Linked DNA regions of Homo sapiens: region 2 is linked to region 1. The links come from fine-mapping of genetic effects on gene expression. A gene starts in region 1. The other region holds a variant in brackets. All regions are shown on one strand. Distances are from middle to middle.

Region 1 (10,291 bases):
GAAGGACCTCTATCACCTAAGGGAAGGTGGTCACTGACAAGTGACCTATTCCTAACTTCCCAGTAACTCATCAGTCTACCATAATCTGGTTTCTGTTCGTTTCACTCCACTGACGTTTCTCTTGTCAAGTTCATCAATAGCTTCATATTACCAAAGACAAAGATGCTTTAAAAAACAAAACAAAACAAAAAAACCACTTTGCCTTCATCTTACTCAAGTTCATAACAGCATTCAATACATTTGACCACTCCCTCCTGGAAATACTCTGCTGTCTTGGTTTCCCTGAGGCCTCTTGCTCTCTTCCTACCTCATGGCCACACTGTTTCCAACTCCTTTGATGGCTCTCCTGCTTGCAGCTTACCTTTAAATTTAGGGGGATTCAGGTCTTATTCTGAGTTTTTCTTGCTTCCTCTCAACTCTCCAAGTAATCTCAGTAGTTTTTTGGGATTTAAGTATCTGTGTGTTGATGACTGCCATATGGGTATTTCCAGTTCAGACATCTGATTGTAATGTCCATTTCTAAAACTTAGTATGCCCAAAAGTAAACTCTTGATTTTTTTAATCCAAGTCTGTCCTGCTTTCCTTGCTCTAACCATCATCCTATATTATTGAGAAATGGTATCACTATATACCAAATTATTAAAGTCTCTAGCCTAGCAGTCATTCTTAATCTTTTCCTTCATTATTATATATCCCATATCCAATTCAATAGCAAAGACCAGTGATTTTCTCTCCAAACTTTATCTTGCATATACCCTCTTTCCTCCATTTCTACTATCAGTACCTTAATTCATGCCATATTACCACCATCTCTCACTTATAAGGGTCTCAACCTACAGATCAAGCCCTATCCCTTCTACCTCGAGAATACCTCAGATTCTCCCTTTGTCTCCATCTCCACTGCCTCCATTCTAACTCAAGCCATTGCAATCTCTTACTTGGGCACCTGTAATACTCAATTCCCTCTTAACAAGACTCCCAACTTTCACACTTACTTACTTACATGTGTACAATTTATGCTCTATGATGCAGCCAGTGTGCAGTGTCTTTTTTAAAAAAATATTTTAAACACAGGTTAGGTTACATTTAAATGGCTTTAGAATCAAACCCCAATTTCTTACCATGCCATAAAAAGCCCCATCAACAGAATACAAAACAAAACAGTCAAAGTCTTTGCCATCATGTTCTACGTGTAGCAGGAACTAAGAATTATTCAATGAAGAATCAAATGAGATCATCATGCACCAGGGTTAATTCTCAGGAAATCAGTCTGGGCTGATTAGAACTACTAACTGCCCAGGAGAGTAGTCCCCTAGGGTGAGAACTTTAAGAAGTTTCTGATGAAGACAGTCTAATTTCACTGCTTACTGGAAAAAGAGTGCCCCTGGAAAGTGCAAATACATACAACTCCAACTCAAGTCTAAAAACCAGATTTTACCAATGAAAAGCAGCATTCATTTCTTACCAGCTTCTTTTTCTTTCAATTGCAGAAGGGCTGGCATAGGAGGATGAAGAAAGTAACAATTTTCATGTCTTTGCTTGAATTCTTCAGCAGCAATAGGATCTATACCTAGAGCAAACCAGGCAACCAATCCATCTTCCTCCTCTCTCGGGACTTCACCAGCATAATTAAGTAGTTTGTCTTTTATTTCAAGTTCTACTCCAAGAAAAATCAAGGTGATCTTCTCAGGCTGGGCCAAATAATCCTTTATATCTGTGTAGTTCAGCTGACAAAGCCTAACTTCTGGCTGTTGGAAACTTTCTTTATTGCCACCTAGAGTAACCAAGGGATTTAAATCTGAGAAAAGAATAAAAACTGTGGCTGGATGGCTTTCTTTAGCTAGCAGCCAGTCAGAATTATTTCTCTTTTCACTTTTCCGGTCCAGTAGTGTTTTGCTAAAATAATTTTCACATTCTTCCACTTCATTCGTTAGGAACCAAGGCTTCTTCCCACCTTTAGCAGTAGCTAGTAAATTAGCTATATGCTTATAACCCCAAAATACAGCAATGTCCAGTGCAGTCTGCCTTGATTTATTGACAATTGATCTGTCACACCTATAGATGGAAGAAAAAATTGGGGAGAAAAAGTAAAATAGGAAGTAAACACTTTCTCCGTATTTATTTCACTAAAATATTTCCAGATACATATTAAAGTCCTTCTTTTTAATGATTACATAGATTTTTTTTCTTTTGTTACATAGTTTACTATTGGGAAGGTTAAAAGAACAATCATAAATGACAAAAAGTTAAGAGACAGTGGATACTTACACTTTCTGGATAATTACTCACAAAATAAAACAGTATTAAGCTTTATGCACTATAAAGAGATACCAAAATTCTACAAGAAGTCCTTGGTAGTCATAGTGAGATCTGCATTTTCTATTTGGGAGGAAAATTTATAATTAGACTCCTCATAAATTTGCTTTGCTATAAAGAAATAATTTCTCAATGAAAAAGGTTACAAAGTTTTAAGTTAGAAAAATTGTGCTACATTTTTACATAAATTAGCCAATGAGTTATTTAGTAGTTCAACAATATAAATATGGAAACAAGCAAAATTTTAAAGTAAATATGTAACAAAGAAATTAAACCACAAACCCTTTCAGGTGGTACAGCCTAAAATGTTTACCCTTTCTCAAGCAGAAATTGGACTATCTCTGGGTGCCCATTCCTTGCCGCATACATTAAAGCAGTCCAGCCATTTTCAGAAGTTTCATTGAGAAGAGATGGAGAATGACTGAGTATTCCTGTTAACTTGGCAATATCTCCTTCAGCAGCTGAACAGTGAAACTGAGTAACTATTTCTTGCTTCAGACTTCTTTTTACAGAAGACATTTCTTCCTTAAAAGAAGGAAAATCAGGGGAAAAAGCTTATTTGCAACTGCTTTTTTATCAATGAACAATATTGATAAATAGCAATAGAATAATAGCAATGGTTTCCAAGGCAACATACTATTCAACAGGCAATCCTTAAACAGCATACATTTCAATTTCAAAATGTTATCAGTTTAGAATTATAAAATGCAACGCAATTTATATGCCCATGGGAGTTACACAAAATAATGAATAAAGAGCTCTGACAGTACAGACGAGGGGGCCATATCCTTGGGAGGGGGAACCAGGTAACATATTACATAAGGAGGAGGTATTTAGGGTAGACCAGAGGGGACTTCACGATGGGTGGGGACATGAGGGGGAGAGCATTAAAACAGATGGAAGTAAAGGCAGAGACTTTATAAGTTTCACAGGAAAACAGTTTATTGTTTGACCTTGCACAATTAATTCTGTAATCCATCTAGGATCTATTTTTGTTCATGGCATGAGGTAGGGGTCAAGATACTTTTTTACCCAATGCATAATCCATATTACTCCGTATTATTCTTGAAATTACCATCTTTGTCCTACTACACTGAGACAAATATTGTCACAAATCAGATGATCATATATTTTTGGTTCTATTATTGGACAGTTCTGTTGGTCACTTTGTTGTCCTTGAATCAGAGCAGCTTTTAAAACTCATTAACTTTATCTGCTTTGTCACCTTTTTGTTTCGGTGGGGTAAACCCTGAAATAATTGTTCCATACCTCTTAAATATTGCCTAATCATGGACTGCAGATGATAGAGCACACACTGAGCTTTTTTTGTCTTTTTTTTTTTTTGGCGGCGGGGGATGGTGAAAATGGTTCATGATTCAACTGTCTGTGAACTTCTCAAAGTATTTTTTTTTAAGGTATAATTCTTCTTTCTATGAAATGCTATTAAGAAAAGATTTGGGATTCTAACAACATTTCTATCATTCTAAGCAATAAGATTTTTAAGCTAAAAAGACAGAAAGGTTATAGCCCATAGTTTTTGATAGCTGCTGTCTCCTGGGTTCTGAAAGGGCGATCTGGCTGATGAATTGCATAGCAGGAATAGTATGAACAAAATTTAGGGAAAACAAGGAGTAAAGATTAATTGTCTCATTTTGGAGCTGTTCACCTTTCCTATTTGTGTCTTTCTGCTACTTATAAATAGGTTAAAACTGCTCACAGTCATGGAAACACTTGGATGAAACCTAACAGTGGAAATCTGTTTAGAAATTAAATTACCAGAAGTAATATCTACATGACAGAATAATTTTTGATTTATTCTAGAATTTACTTCGCTGTTCCTTTCATATTGAAATTTCTACATACGTTAAAAATACTATGCATAACAAAAGCTACAAATTTTCAGGACTTTATTTTGAAGCACTGCTGTACAGCTCCTGTACTGATCTCCCTTCCAAATTGTCTTTCTCTTAAGTTTATTTTCCAAAAACCCATATTATAGTTTTTTCAGCTAGGTTTAGTTTGAATAATATTTCACTGTCTCATGTTCTGGGGTCACCGTCACTCCCTCACATTCTCACAGGCCGCGCCAGGTAACTGCAAAATTGTCCTTCAAAAATACAGCGTCATTCACTACCTCCAGGGCAATGCTTATGCATATGCTATTCTGTGGAGATGGGAAGTGGAAAGTGTACACTTTTCCCTCTAGCTTTCTCAGCAGAAAAGCCATCTAGAAATAGTACCATTATTCATTCCAGAGAAGCACATAAAGTCTAACACCCAATTCTACTGTTTGATTTACTTTTTCAATTCTCATTGACAGGTTATAGAAGGTAAAGATTTGAAGGCAGAATAAAGTGCTGCCCTTGTTTTCCAAGAAGCTCAAGGACTATTCCGAGAAATCATTTAAAAGAATATTAGATGTAAAGGGACATAAATTTTTAACAAACCAACATCCACTTTTACTGACATGTAACCCGGGGCCCATGACTTCCGCATGCTCACACAGACCGAATGGGACAGGACAGGACCTTAAATATCGCTCTGTCACTGAAATCACTGACCATCAATTAACGAATTTCATCCACTCCCTGGGCACTCAAGACCAATTAAGTGCCACCCGTGCACGGTCTCTGAAAATGGTAAAATGCCTTAAGATATTTTACTTTCTTGCCACTACTGTGAGATTCCTTCTTTCGAGGTGAAATCACACCCTAAGTAGCGCTTCCTTTTCCCCATCTCAGCTTGGGCAGGAAACTCTACGACCTCAGTACCGCCGCACCTCCGCCCTGTCGCGGGAGCCCCTGCAAATGCGTCCGTGGCTCCCGCGCCTGCGCCCACCAAACCACTACGAGGCTCCGCCACACAACTCAGCAGGGCCACGCAGGGCAGCGCGGGAACCAAAGAGCCCAGGGAAGTGGTCACCGCCCCCAGAGGAGGCAATGAGACGACTAACTCCCCACTGCTTCTACTAACCCAAAGGTGACCACAGTAGAGGCAACCAGGATGCAGTCCAAAGATTGGGATATCCCACTCGCTTTTCCTGGAGCCGGATGCAGTCTTCCCGACTTCCGGTGGAGATCCGGGGGTGGGGGGGGGGCGGGAGGGGGGCCCCCGCGGTTTTATGGGAGATGTAGTTTGAAGCCCACAGGTTGTGCGCAAGGGAGAAGGGGTGGAGATTGGGGGTGGAAGTGTTTGGGAGCCGGCGCGGGAGAGATCGCGGTCTAAAGGATTGGAGCTGAATGAAGGGCTGAAAATCCTTCTCCTGAGACTGTGATGTGTAGATAGAACGTGGTGCAGGCGATCGGAAAACTGTAGGCCTAAGGAAACGATTTTAAATTTTCCAGCGTCTCCCACCCAACTCCTAGCCCTCTCTCCAATACAGTCCAATGCAATTGAGTGCTCAAAGCATTCTTTCCTGTTAAATAATCCTGGACTATTGACTAGACCAAGTCACTCTTAAACGAGATATTCGGCCTCTGTAACACCTTAATCATTCACCCCATGGGAAAACTGGTATCATATACTGACGCCTAACTTATTCAGTAGTCCTTTAAAAAGTATGTATCAAGCGCGCAAAACACCTCCTTGGGTTGTGAGGTGTAAATAGGATAATGTATCCAAAGCTCTTAGGATGTTGTGAAGTGCAGAGTGGGCACCCACAACAAAATTATTGTCGTTATTTTTTATTTCAGTTCCTGTGCTTTTATGCTCCAAAACCTACAGAAGTTATGAGTCCGAGATTACAAAACTAGGTGTTGGCGGTCTTCTAACTTCCAGACCAGGGCTTTTTCCTTTACTAAACTCTCTCCTTGGTAATCAGCAACAGCTACAGGGGTCTCTTACAATTGATCACTGTTTCCCACCCAGATTTTACCCTTGGAAGCTCCTTCTCACTGTGAAGCTGTATGCACCAGTTGACATTGATCATGAGGGCTTCTAACGCCCTGTGCTGCTGTTTTTTTTTTTTTTTTCTTTTTTTTAGATGGGTTCTCACTCTGTCACCCAGGCTGGAGTGCAGTAGTGCGATCTTGGCTCACTGCAACCTCCGCCTCCCGGGGTTTCAAGTGATTCTCCTGCCTCAGTCTCCCGAGTAGCTGGGATTACAGGTGTGCGCCACCAGGCCCAGCTAATTTTTGTATTTTTAGTAGAGACAGGTTTTTGCCATGTTGGCCAGGCTGGTCTGGAACTCCTGACCTCAGGTGATCCATCCGCCTTGGCCTCCCAAAGTGCTGGGATTACAGGCGCGAGCCACTGCACCCGGCCGCCCTATGCTTCTTTATGTGACTAGTTGTTTTCAGCCTTTAATGATTTCAGTGACCAGACAGGTGGTCAGAAAGGATTAGTTACTTCACTTGGAGTACCCAATCTTTGCATTCAAACATATGTTAGATTAGTATAGTGAACCCTCGTGTATTAATGATCCAGAGTCAACAACTATTAATATATAGTTCTCCCAGTTGTTAGGATTGTTTTGAAGTAAATTCCAGACCCCATATTGTTTTGATGACAAATATTTAAGAGTAAACTTTTTGGAAATATGTATTATATCTAAAATATAAGGGCTTTGAAAAACAACACAACTTCAATATCCCTAGTATTACAAATTTAACAATAATTCTGTAATAACATAAAAGAAACATTCAATATCAAATTTACTCACTTGCCTCAGAAGTTTTATATGTTTTTCAGTTGATTCATCTGAACAAAGTCTCCACATCACATTTGATTTTTAAAAATCTATGGATTCCTTCCTCTTCCCCTTTTTTTCTGGCAGTTTATTTACTAAAGAGTAATGATCATTTGTTCTGTAGAATTTTCCACATTCTGAATTTTGCAGATTTTATTCCTGTGCTGTCCTTTCCCCCTGTATTTCTTGCAAACTGGTAGTTAACTTTATAGAATTACTCAGATTAAAGTTTGATTTTTTTTCACAAAAGACTTTATAGGTGTTACAGTTTACTTTGTATTGAATTACTTCAAGAGGCTTACAACTTCTGGTTGTCTCTCTTTTTTTAATGTTATACTTGATCATTGGGTTCAGATGTTGTCAACCTGATAACATGTATGATAAATAATAATATAAATATTATAAAAATATGGTAAATGTTTATGATAAATATATGACATTGATATATAATTATGATAAATATAATTATATTATTTAAATATTAAATTTATGATAAATATATTATAAATTTTTCCATCAACTTTTCAGCTAATAGTTTTAGCAGCCATTCATGATTATTGCCTGCATCCATCATTTTGTTATGAGTTGCAAATAGTGATATTCTAATTTGATATTCACTCTACATTTACTAACAAATTATTTTATAATAAAGAACTTCATCTAATTAAATATCTATACAGCTTATATGGAAAGATAGGATAAATGTGCGATTTTCACCATTATTTCCTAATCTTCAGAATAATTAGTTAGTTCCCTAATATCCTTCAGGTAAGTATACAAACGTGCCTTGTTTTATTGCACTTTGCTTTACTGTACTTCACAGATAGTACATTTTTTACAAATTGAAGGTTTATGACAACCTTGTGGCAAGCAAGTATATAGGTGCCACTTTTCCAACAACGTGTTCACTTTGTATGTCTATCACATTTTGTAATTCTTGCAATATTTCACACTTTTTCATTATTATATCTGTTATGGTGATCTGTGATCAGTAATCTTTGATGTTACTATTGTAATTGTTTTGGATTGCCACAAACTGCACCCATATAAGTTGGCAAACATAATCAATACACGTTGTGTGTGTTCTCACTGCTCCATCCACTGGCTATTCTTATCTCTCTCCCTCTCCTCAGGCCTCCCTATTCCCTGAGATACAGCAATATTGAAATTAGGCCAATTAATAACCCTACAGTGGCCCCTAAGTGTTCAAGTGAAAGGAAGACGCACACATCTCTCACACATTTTAAATCAGAAGCTGGAAATTATTAAGCTTAGTAAGAAAGGCATGTCAAAAGACAAGACAGGCCAAAAGCAAAGCCCCTTGCACCAAAGAGTTAGCCAAGTTATAAAGGCAAAGGAAAAGTTCTTGAAGGAAATTAAAAGTACTACTCCAGTGAACACATGAATGGTAAGAAAGTGAAACAGCTTTATTGCTGATATGGAGAAGGTTTTAGTGGTCTGGGTGGAAGATTAAACCAGGCATAATATTTCCTTAAGCCAAAGCTTTATCCAGAGCAAAGTCCTAACTCTCTTCAGTTGTATGAAGACCGAGAGAAGTGAGGAAACTGCAGAAGAAAAGTCGGCATCTAGCAGAGGTTGGTTCATGAGGTTTAAGGAAAAAAGCCTCCTTCATGACATAAAAGTGCAAGTTGAAGGAGCAAGTGGCGATGGAGACGCTGCAGCAAGTTACCCAGAAGATCTTGCTAAGAGAATTGATGAAGGCAGCTAAACTAAACAGCAGACTTTGAATGTAGAAAAAAACAGCCACCTATTGGAAGAAGATGCCGCCCATGACATCCATATCAAGAGGTGACAAATCAATGCCTGGCTTCAAAACCTCAAAAGACAGGCAGACTCACTTATTAGGGACTAATGCAACTGGTGACTTGAAGTTGAAGCCAATACTCACAATTTTGAAAATCCTAGGGCCCTTAAGAATTATGGTAAGTCTACCCTGCCTGTGCTCTCTAAATGGAGCAACAAAGCCTGAATGACAGCACATCTGTTTAGAGAGTGGTTTACTGAATAAGCCTACCGTGGCCACCTACTGCTCAGAAGAAAAGTTTCCTTTCAGGGCCAGGCGCGGTGGCTCACACCTGTAATCCCAGCACTTTGGGAGCCCGAGGCGGACGGATCATGAGGTCAAGAGATGAAGACCATCTTGGCTAACACAGTGAAACCCTGTCGCTACTAAAAAAAAAATAAAAAAAGTAGCCGGGCATGGTAGCGGGCACCTGAAGTTGCAGCTACTCAGGAGGCTGAGGCAGGAGAATGAGGCTGAGGCAGGAGAATGGCGCAAACCCAGGAGGCAGAAGTTGCAGTGAGCCAAGAGATCGCACCACTGCACTCCAGCCTGGGTGACAGAGCGAGACTCTGTCTCAGAAAAAAAAAAAAAAAAAAAAAAAAAAAAAGATTCCTTTCAAAATATTACTGTTAATTGATAATGTATCTGGTCACTGAAGGGCTCTGATGGAGATTTACAGGGAAATTAATGTTGTTTTCATACTTGCTGGCACAACATTCTGCAGCCCACAAATCAAGGAGTAATTTTGACTTTCAAGACTTATTATTAAAGAAATACATTTTGTAAGACTATGGCTGTCATATATAGGGATTCCTCTGGTGGATCTGGGCAAAGCAAATTGAAAAGCTTGTGGAAATGATTCACCATTCCAGATGTCATTAAGAACATTTGTGATTCGGGCCATGTGTGGTGGCTCACACCTGTAATCCCAGCACTTTGGGAGGCCGAGATGGGCAGATCACCTAAGGTCAGGAGTTCAAGACCAGCCTGGCCAATATGGTGAAACCCCACCTCTACTAAAATTACAAAAATTAGCCAGGCTTGATGGCGGGTGCCTGTAATCCCAGCTACTAGGGTGGCTGAGGCAGGAGAATCGCTTGAACGCAGGAGAATTGCTTGAACCCAGGAGGCGGAGGTTGCAGTGAGCTGAGAGCACGCCATTACACTCCAGCCTGGGCAACAAGAACAAAACTCCATCTCAAAAAAAAAAAAAGAACATTTGTGATTTGTGGAGGAGATCAAGCTATCAACATGAACAGGAGTTTGGAAGACATTGATTCCAACCCTAATGGATGACTTTGAGTGGTTCAAGACTTCAGTGGAGGAAGTAACTGCAGATGTGGTGGTAGTAGCAAGGTAATCCAGATTAGAAGTGGAGCCTAAAGATGTGTCTGAATTGCTGCAATCTCATGATAAAATTTGAATGAATAAGGAGTTGCTTCTTATGGGTGAGCAAATAAAGTGGTTTCTTGAGATAGAATCTA
Region 2 (10,291 bases), 34 kb before region 1:
TTTTCTGGTAAAAACAGTCCAAAAGTATCCCAGTTTCTCAAAGCAATACACTCCCTGAAAAAATTACCCAGTTCTAGCCTGAGATATCAGTAATATGAAGACAATAATGTTGAATAAAGTATAAAGATATTCATAGTTCTAGGAGAGTTAAATCTATGCAAACATTTATAGATTCAAATATTTTGTATTAATATTATAACTGCTGAACTATGTTCCTGGTTTTGTTGTTGTTGTTGTTGTTGTTTGTTTTGGTATGTGAACTATTCAAAGAAATCTGATGTGACTTCCCTGCATTTATTTTTGCATTCAATAAATATTTGAGCACCTATACTACAGGACAGGTACTATCTAATTTTATGAATATAGCAATGATCAAAACAGGAAAAATCCATGCCCTCCTGGAACTTATATTCTAGTGAAAGAAGACAGAACAAAACAAAAATAAACCAGTAAAATATATAGCAGATTAGAAGGCAAAAAGTGCTATGTATAAATGGAAAAAGGATAGCGTTTGCCTGGGCTGTAATGAAGATGGTTCAGTTTGCAATTTTAAATGGAGTGGTCTGAGAAGACCTTCCTGAGAACATGCTGTGTGAGCAAAAATCTAAAGGAGATGAGGAGATGAGAATGAACCATGTAGACATATAGGGGAAGACTGGTCCAAGTAGTGGGAGCAGTCCATGCAAAGGGCCTGATGTGGATCTGGGCTGGAAGGTTCTAGGAAGTAAGTCAATATGGCTGGAAGAGTGATCAAGGAAAAGGATACAGGGAGAGAGTTGTAGGAATAGCCTTTTGATGAATCAGTAACACAGGGAACCAGTAGCTGGAATTGTTTACCAAATGGGACAGTTTCAAACTCTGATGTGTAATATCAGCTTTGAGAGAATTCTGACTTGAATTATTGATTTTCTTAAGAAATGTTTCCCGCTGGGAGAGGTAGGACAGGGAGGAACATGCCTCTGGGGGAAGGAGAGTCAACTTGGGAGATATATTCATCCAGGTGAGCATGTGTTTCCTTTGGGAGGCACAGTTGTTCTTACTGCAGGTTCCCTTGCAGTTCCAAATAACTATAGACTGAAGTCAGTGTTGGGATTAATGTCATTGATGCTGATTTCTGGATGGATGTTGGCACCAGGAAGCAGTCCCCATGACTGATGGTCCTTGCTTTAGGGTGTTCATATCAAGCAGATGACCATAGAGTTTTCATACTGTTTTAGGGCATTTACTCTCTACAAAACAAATTTCACATTTTATTCTAACAGTTATGTAATTGATTATGCTTTTTGTATTTTATTTCTACTTCTAAATTTTACTAATTTCATTCAAAAATCTAGAGACAGAACTACAAAGAAAATATACCTTCTCCTTTAAGTTTCATCATTCCAAATATAATTTCTGAAGCTATTAGGATTATTACCAGCAGTTTAGAAGACAGTTTTTACTCATTCAAAATGTATTTTAATTTACAATATGGAATAATGCTAACATTAAATATAAAATAATTTGGACTCATTTAAAAAAACAAGGGCCTTCTATGAAGTGACAAAAATGATATAGTGCTGATTTGAGATTGAAAGCAGACAGGCAGAATTATGTACTTAGGAAAGAACTTCCATCTTGGCCCTACTTGAGGTCTGGAGAGCTTCTGGGTTCTATCAACAATTTGGTCCAAGTAATGCACAAGGGAGGTCAGAGGTCTGCTGGAGGTCAGAGGCCCCATGGTGGCTCAGTGAGGATTAGGCAAGGTCGTTTCTGTTTTTTGTCCTTTGTTGTAATTACTATTCCACATGGCCTTCCAAGACATACATACAATGCCTCTGTAACACCACAGCAAGATTTAAAAATATATTTTATTACAAACATATTCTTCCTATTCTTCTGAACATGCTTAGCTTGCAAGAAGGAAAGAAATGGTGGATTATTTAAGAGTGGCAAAGACTAACATTTCCTACAAAATTGATTTGGCAATATATCAACCTTTTAAAGAGAAATTGATTTTTTTTTTTTTTACATTAAACTGCAGGCTTGAAGATGCACTATTTATGGGTGGAGTGGGTGATAATGTAAAGAAACAGACTGATATATGCTTGCCCGTGTTCATCTAACTCTAAAATATATAATATATCTTTAGCAATAAAGAAAACATCCCAAGCAATTTTAAAAAAGCCCTCATCTTAAGACTTTCCAAAGCTAAAATATATAAAAAATAATGAAAGTTAATGATTCTGTATAGCCCACCATACCTTTCAAAGCTTGCTTCTGAGGTGGCATCAACGTGTGTATTTGGTAACAGTAATTTTCCTTTGAGTCATTTTTGTTCTCATCCTCTTCAGTATTTGGCCCTGTTGATGCAATCCTTTGGCACTGTGCTGGCTCCTGTTTAAAACTAGTTAGTCCAAGGTTTTCTTTATCTTGGTTACCATGTAGGTCCACATCATTGGTCAGTGTTTTTTCAATAAGAAACAGATTATCTGAAGCACACACTGCACAGTTGGACTCAGCAGTGTTTGCTGAAAAATGCATTTGAAAACAGACTTTGTCACGATTCTCATTTGACAGGTCTTCAAAATCTCTGTGGTATGCATTATTCACCACGGGTATTATCTGGCATTTGTCTTTTTCAACATTTTCCAGAGAGCTGGGTGACTCTTTACGGTTTTTCATTCCCATGGGACAATTAGAAACAACTAGTTTCTTTATCATCTTGAATAATCAATTTTTGCTCTAACTCATCAGTTATGAAGGTCATAACTAGTGCTTTTGTTTTGGTCGGGGCTGCTATCTCTGGATGACTTGCTGTGACTCTGTTTGGTTCCATTCCACAGTGCTGTGGCTAATACCGTTGCGTGGGCTCTTAGCTGCTAGGCTGCTGCCAGAAGCAGGCCTGAGATTAAGACACAGTGTAATCTTCCTTTCCAGTAGTTGCTGTGCTTTAGCATGAGAGTCACTATGTAAAATGGCTTTGTTAAAGTCTCTGTCAGTCACATTAATCTGCTCCTTCTCATAATCTATCACACACTCAGCACAATGATTAAAAGAAAATGTACTCTCAGGGTTTTCCTTAGGTTTCAAATGTCTGGTGGCCCAGTGAGGTGGGCTGAATGAGGTGCAAGACTGCAGAGAAGTTTGAGTGGGAGGGAAAGATACAGAATTTGAGTTCTCACAGCATTCTGCAGGTGGAGTCTTGCTTCCTTTGCAGTAGATGTTGGCTACCTTTGCTTCTGTGAGCTACATACTCACAGAAGATGAAGAACTAAAGGTGAAGTTTTTGCCATCTTGAGTGGAAAGATGTCAGTAATGGTACTTGGCAAATAATTTATTCCTTCTGTGCTTTGCTGTACATGTGAGTCTGATGTGATATTTCCTGGGATATCAAAGTTGATTTTTCTCTCTTTTTCCACATCCTTAGAATCCTCGAAAGGCATTTTACTTAAATCTGCAGTACTTAAACTTGTGGTCTTTTGGGTATTATGTGAAGTAGGAAGAATTTTTTTGAGAAGAGTCTTAGACTCAGAGAAATGTTTCTTTCTGGGGGTGTTCTGACTAATTTTAAAGACCTTCTGCCGAGAGATAGCAGATTCTACCTCACAGTCTTCTAAGACTGTAGATAGTGTGTCAGGCTTATTTTTCTTTCTCTCCAGAGTCGAGGTTAGATAAATCACCACTGTATCAAAATTCTTCTCCTTCTCGACAGCACACATGCCAGGAGAAGAGACACACAAACAATCTCAACTCTGATGCTTGTTTTCAAGCTGCCACATTTCAGGATACCTAATACCAGACTGTGAGGGAGACCTGAAAGTTTCTTTAGTGGTGTGATTGGAGGAAATGTTTCTGTATTTAGTTACTTTTTTCCTTTCTTTTAGGATGAGTTATATTAATTAATATATTCTGTGTCTTAGTCATGTAGTTGACTTTAATTTCTTTTCTTTCAATGGTTACTTTCAGCAAGGG[T/G]CTGTCGGTTCTGGCAATTTCTCCTTCATGTTTAGACAGCACCTCAGGTTTTAGTTCTTCCACCAATATATTCTTATGTTTAGGAAAGCAGCTCCTAGAAGGGTAGCATCTCTGAATGTGTCTGATAGAGCAACGCTGGCAACATTTTGGATGTCTCTTTTTTTGTTGGGAACTGTATTCCTGGTTTACAGACAAAGTTTTTCTTGATTTCTATTTGCACATTGAAATCCCCACGTTTCACTTCTGTAATAAATTTGCCTTTTGCTGGCTTAAAGTCTTCTACTGTGCCTAGGAGATTCTGTAATGTAATGTTTTCTGATAATGATTCTCCATAGTCATTAAATGTGATCATAGGTAAGACTTTCTCCAGTTGATGAGAGACAGCCAAAGGAGGATCATCATTTCCCTTCTTCCTATGTATTTTGCTGTCACATGGATGCTGTTTCTTATCTTTAGGAAGAAAAGAAGAATTCTGCTTTTCATTCACAGAAGCAGACATACCCTCATCTCCATTTTCCTTAGATTTCCCTAATGTCCCAGTCTGATGAAACACAGGCTCCAAGGTGTCTCCTTTGACTTCCTTTTCAAGAACTTTTATATTTTCTTGGCATGCTCAGCCAGCAGGCTGAGATACACCTAAAGAGGAAGCAAAAAAATAAAAATTGGAAAGGTTTACGTGTTCATTTAGAGAACAGATGTTCCAATTTCTAGAATAAAATGCAATGCAAATCCTTTGTAAGTATTTTGGGTATCGGTTTTCATTCATTTATAGCATGTCAAAATGTTTTTCACAAAAGTTCATTTATAATAAATACATCACTTTAAATCAACCAATTCTCTTAGAGTGTAGAAATATCACCAGTAGTTTTATGAAGTAAGAATTTAATTAAGCTGTACTCTAAAACAGCAACTTGCAAAAGTGGGTGAAATGAAAATTTCACAAGAAACATATGCAACTAAATTTTAAGTGCAACTCTTGAAAAAGAACAGCTTGCTATATGATCAGGTATTTGAACATGGCATTATACTACAGGCTAAGTCAAGCTCAATACAATTTGAGATGGTACTACAAATGAAGATGTGGGTAAAAAGAATGGAAGAAACATAAGTATGCTTTTAGACAGACTTTCAAACATGTCCAGTAGTATCCTTTGCCCTGGGCTTTTTATAGAATAGGTTCACAAACTCAAAGTCTGTGGCATTTAAACAGGTAACATAAACAAGTGAAGCAGGCTGGGTATACATATTCTCTGCTAGTCAGCTCCAGCCACGTGAAAAGGTGTCCTGGTGTTACTGGATCATCTCATTTTTCCAGAAGAGAACTAGAATCTGGATTTTTTCCTATACTGTAAAATTTCTTAATTTCTAAGGATTAGTTCAAAAATTTAAAACAACAACCCTCTATAGGTGGAGGCCAGTATACTTAGGGACCAGCTTTTGCCCAAGAACTACCAGCTTGCAACCTGCACTCCTCTGTTTTATATTAAAATACATTCCTATGAGAAGCTTGTGAACCTGAGCATGAGGCACCAGAGCTTGTGTAAAAAACAGTGGACAAAAATATCTCAAATTCTATTTTAAACTACATCTGAGATTATTTGTTAAGAAAGAAGAATAGGCAACAAGTGAATACTTATATCATAAAGATTGATGAACCAGGTGTCAAAAAGGACATTTTTAAAAAGTTAAGTTTAAAATTGGAATGGATTATTTATACATTTATTTTAAATGTTTTTAACTTAAAATGATTTTTATTTATACTTATAAATTTTTACATAAAATGCTTATAATTATATAAATACTTATATAGAGAATAAATTCTCTTCAACAGGAAAAAGAACAGCATCGAGCATACTGAGATCACTTGAGGAGTCTAACCATTCCCATTTGCCTCTCTTCTAGCCTGTAGGAAGGTCTCTCTTGTCAGGTACTGAAACAGTTTCCAGTGGGCCTGGTCACAATCTGAGCTCTGTAATGTGGAAGTCATAAGAGAAAAGACATGGAGACCTATCTCTCTAAAGGCCATTTACAATAGACCATGGACACAATAACAGTTTATAGACTGATGGACTGCCTTCCAGAACTGGACTTTATTCTTTAAATAACATCTTCATGCCAAGAGCCATTCTGTTTATACCCCTTTCAATTTTATAATTTTATATTTTATAGCCCCTTTGAATTGACTACATTTTAATTTCTGCAAAAAGGGATATAGAGCAGAGAAAGTTACATAATAATGCATTGATAACAGATTCTAAGAATAATGGGTCCTAATAGTCCATATCTGAATATTTTTATTTAGATTTTTATTAGTTATAATACATATCATTAATGCAGAAGTATATAAATAGTAACTATAGACCAAGCTTCAAAATCATTTTATATGTTTTTATCTTCCTAGTTTTATAGACAGTCCTGTGATAAAGAAGAAAGTACATAAACTAAGCAGTTCATTTTTTACATACTTAGAAAATCATTGAATTGGACTTACATACTGTGGTATTCAAGATTTCCCATTTTTTACAGCCTTTTCTTCTTTTCCTCATCATTTTGGGGAGTTGTGGGTCTTCAGTTTTCACTGCCCTTTGAAAACAGCAAATAAATTTGAAATTATTTTCCCATCAGAATTTAGGTTTAGTCAAATTACTGAGTAACTCAACTCACTTGCCAACTTGATAGCATGGGTATCTGTCTGTGGTATCCCCACATGCTTTTCCTTTAAATATATTTTATTGTTGTAATTACATTAACCTTTTTTGTTTAGTTCCATCTCAACTATTTAGTGCATTGTTAGATATATATGTACATGTGCATATAAATGAATATTCAAACATATAGATATGTAAAACATATACACATATATTCGTATTTGTAGACATTTAGGATGCAAGTTGATGCATATTGTTTAATTATTTTTATGTTTCATTGTTTCCTATATTAATAGAAACACACAATTTTTTGTAAAGTTAGCCTAAATCCAATATTATGAAATTTGTAGCCCTGCTAAAAATTAAGTGGGGTAGGGAGATGGTTTGCCTTCATTACACTGTCATTATATATAACCATATTTAAATATTATGACTGAGTAAACATATTGGTAGAGTTGGTAATTCATTGTAGAAGACCAAATTCTTTACCTTAACTGTGAAAGAAAGGGTTATATTCTCTGTTGATGATGTCTTAACTAATAGAAGATGTTGGAGAAGGCATCTGCGGGAAGGCCATCTCCTAATTTCCCAATTATCACCTCAAGCAGGCACCTGCCTGTGCTCAGAGCTAAGCCTGATTCTAATTGCTTTACTTTAAAAGAATTAATCTGTCTGTAAAGATGAAAAGGAAATAGTTTCCCATGGAGGCAGTTTGCTTTAGGTGTATTTGGCCAGGCTGTGTCTTTGGACACCTCAGTCAAAAAGCTTGACTCTTATTTGTTTTATGTAAAATCAGGTTGCTTTGCGGCTAGTTTTGGCAAAAATTTATTAAAATTCTTCATAACTCATCTCTCTCCTCCAAGTCATAATATCTGTTGATTTAAAATACTTTTTATTCCATAGCCTCTCCAAATCTCTTAATTTTCTGAAAATTCTGCTTCCCTAGGCTGCCTTTCTTATATAGAGCAATTGATACTCTCTTGGCATCTTTCAATTAACCTGTCTACATTCTCCTGCAATAAGCAAAACTACATTCCTGTGGCTGATGAGGTGAGCAGTAATCCACTCTTCTTAGAAGGCCAATGTGGGGATTGGGTTGCGCAGAGGATTACAAATGCACAATTTAATATCTTTCTTTTTTTATCCCTGTCTTACACATATTGGGTTTTCTAATTTAAAAACGCTTCAAAGGCATTTGACTAGGTATAGATAGTATAGAAAAACGTATGGAGGTTACTCAAAAAATTTAAAAAAAACACTACCATAGGATCCAGTAATTCAACTACTGAGTATGTATCCAAAGGAAATGAAATAAGTATTTCAAAGAGATATCTGCACTCCCATGTTTTATTGTATAGCTATCACAAGTCAAGATATGGAATCAACGTAAGTGTCTAACAACAAATGGAGAAAGAAAATGTGGTATATATACATAATGGAATATTATTCAGCCATAACAAATGGAATCCTGCTATTTGTGACTACATGGATAAACCTGGAGGACGTCATGTTAAATGAAATAAGCCAGACACAGAAGGACAAATACCATGTGATCTCATTCATATGTGGAATCTTTAAAAAAAAAAAGTTGATATAATAGAAGCAGAGAGTAGAACAGTGGTTATCAGAGATTGGGGAGAAGAAGGGGTTAGGAAGGTGGGGAGCAGTTGGTCAACGGGTTCAAAGTCTCAATTAGATTGAACCAATGAATTCTGGTGTTCTGTTGCACACTAGGGTGACTGTGGTTAACAGGAAAACATTGCATATTGCAAAACAGCTAGAAGAGAGGCTTTTTGAATGTTCTCACCACAAAGAAATGATAAATGCATGATGTAATGGACACACTAACTACCTTGATTGGATCATTACACAACATAGCTATGTACTGAAATATTAAATTGTACCTTATAAATTTGTACAATTACAGGGCCAAATAAATAAATACTTTTTTTAAAAGCACATGACTAGGTTAGTGATTATTTCTCAATGGTTTCACATAGTTTAAACAGAAAAATGTAGCCTGCTGCACTGAGTTTAGTTGAGAGCACTTGACTTTGACTCAGAATATCTGGGTCTGTACCATGGCTCTGCTGCTCACTCAGCAGGTTGTGTCATATCTGTGAGGCTGAATTTCCTTTACCTCTAAGATAGAAATGCTAACAAAATTTAACTTACAAAGTTGTCTTGAATAAACACAACTGAAAACATTATCAATGGTTCCAGTGAAATGGTACTTGCTATTAACCTCCGTTACAGTATATATACATAACAATTAAAATATACCCTTAATTAGAGCTGAGCAGTGGCTGGCTTTGGGAGACTTGCCATCTTATCAGAGCTGCAGGTGAGGGCTTCAATAAAGCTGACCAAACCATACATTATTTTTGCGCTAGAATGTCTAGAAGTTTTCAAGATTATCTCATCCAAAGCTCTCAATTCGGTATGTGAAAAACTGGGACCCAGACCATCCGTGCTTCCTGAATCTCACTAATGGTGGCAAACCACTAATTAAGTAAGCTCTCTCTTTGAGCAGACACACGTGGTATAGATGCCTTGGCAATATGGTTAGGCTTTGTCAAATTCCCCACCCAAATCTCATTTTGAATTGTAATCCCCAGATGTTGAAGGAGAGACCTGGTGGTAGGTGATTGGATCATGGCAGAGGGGGGCGCTGTTGTGGGAAGCCAGGAACCCCAAATGGAGGGACCGGCTGAAGCCATGGCAGAAGAACATAAATTGTGAAGATTTCATGGACATTTATTAGTTCCCCAAAATTAATACTTTTATAATTTCTTATGCCTGTCTTTACTGCAATCTCTGAACATAAATTGTGAAGATTTCATGGACACTTTTCACTTCCCCAATCAATACCCTTGTGATTTCTTATGCCTGTCTTTACTTTAATCTCTTAATCCTGTCATTTTTGTAAGCTGAGGAGGATGTATGTCGCCTCAGGACCCTGTGATGATTGCGTTAACTGCACAAATTGTTTGTAAAGCATGTGTGTTTGAACAATATGAAATCTGGGCACCTTGAAAAAAGAACAGGATAACAGCAATGTTCAGGGAACAAGAGAGATAACCTTAAACTCTGACCGCCGGTGAGCCGGGTGGAACAGAGCCATATTTCTCTTCTTTCAAAAGCAAATGGGAGAAATATCGCTGAATTCTTTTTCTCAGCAAGGACATCCCTGAGAAAGAGAATGCATCCCTGAGGGTAGACCTCTAAAATGGCCCCCTTGGGTGCGGCCGTCTTCTATGGTTGAAACTGTAGGGATGAAATAAGCCCCAGTCTCCCATAGCACTCCCAGGCTTATTAGGATGAGGAAATTCCCGCCTAATAAATTTTGGTCAGACCAGTTGTCTGCTTCAAACCCTGTCTCCTGATAAGATGTTATCAATGACAATGCGTGCCTGAAACTTCATTAACAATTTTAATTTCGCCCCGGTCCTGTGGTCCTGTGATCTTGCCCTGCCTCCATTTGCCTCATGATATCTTATTACCTTGTGAAGCATGTGATCTCTGTGACCCACACCCTATTAATACACTCCCTCCCCTTTTGAAAATCACTAATAAAAACTTGCTGGTTTTATGGCTCAGGGGGCATCACAGAACCTGCCAACATGTGATGTCTCTCCCAGACACCCAGCTTTAAAATTTCTCTCTTTTGTACTCTGTCCCTTTGTTTC

What was found. PIP is the estimated chance that this variant, and not a neighbour inherited with it, causes the effect. A credible set is the group of variants that fine-mapping cannot tell apart.
Region 2: its variant is the best candidate, but not a certain one, in a credible set for the expression of NUDT12 in aorta (GTEx, PIP 0.75).

What each region holds. Positions count from the first base shown.
Region 1 is chr5:103,557,414-103,567,704 of GRCh38, forward strand. NUDT12 (nudix hydrolase 12) reads right to left here and starts at 5,376. Exons shown (of 7, transcript NM_031438.4): 1 at 5,290-5,376; 2 at 2,630-2,841; 3 at 1,466-2,055. The coding sequence starts at 2,835. RefSeq lists enhancers at 4,616-5,148, 5,149-5,679.
Region 2 is chr5:103,523,872-103,534,162 of GRCh38, forward strand. It overlaps LINC02115 (long intergenic non-protein coding RNA 2115), which reads right to left. Exons shown (of 5, transcript NR_104670.1): 3 at 6,446-6,537; 4 at 5,833-5,923; 5 at 4,563-4,590. It also overlaps the pseudogene PDZPH1P. Among named protein-coding and RNA genes, the nearest start is that of LINC02115, 13 kb to the right of the region's middle. The variant T/G (reference allele first, on the strand shown) is at 3,955.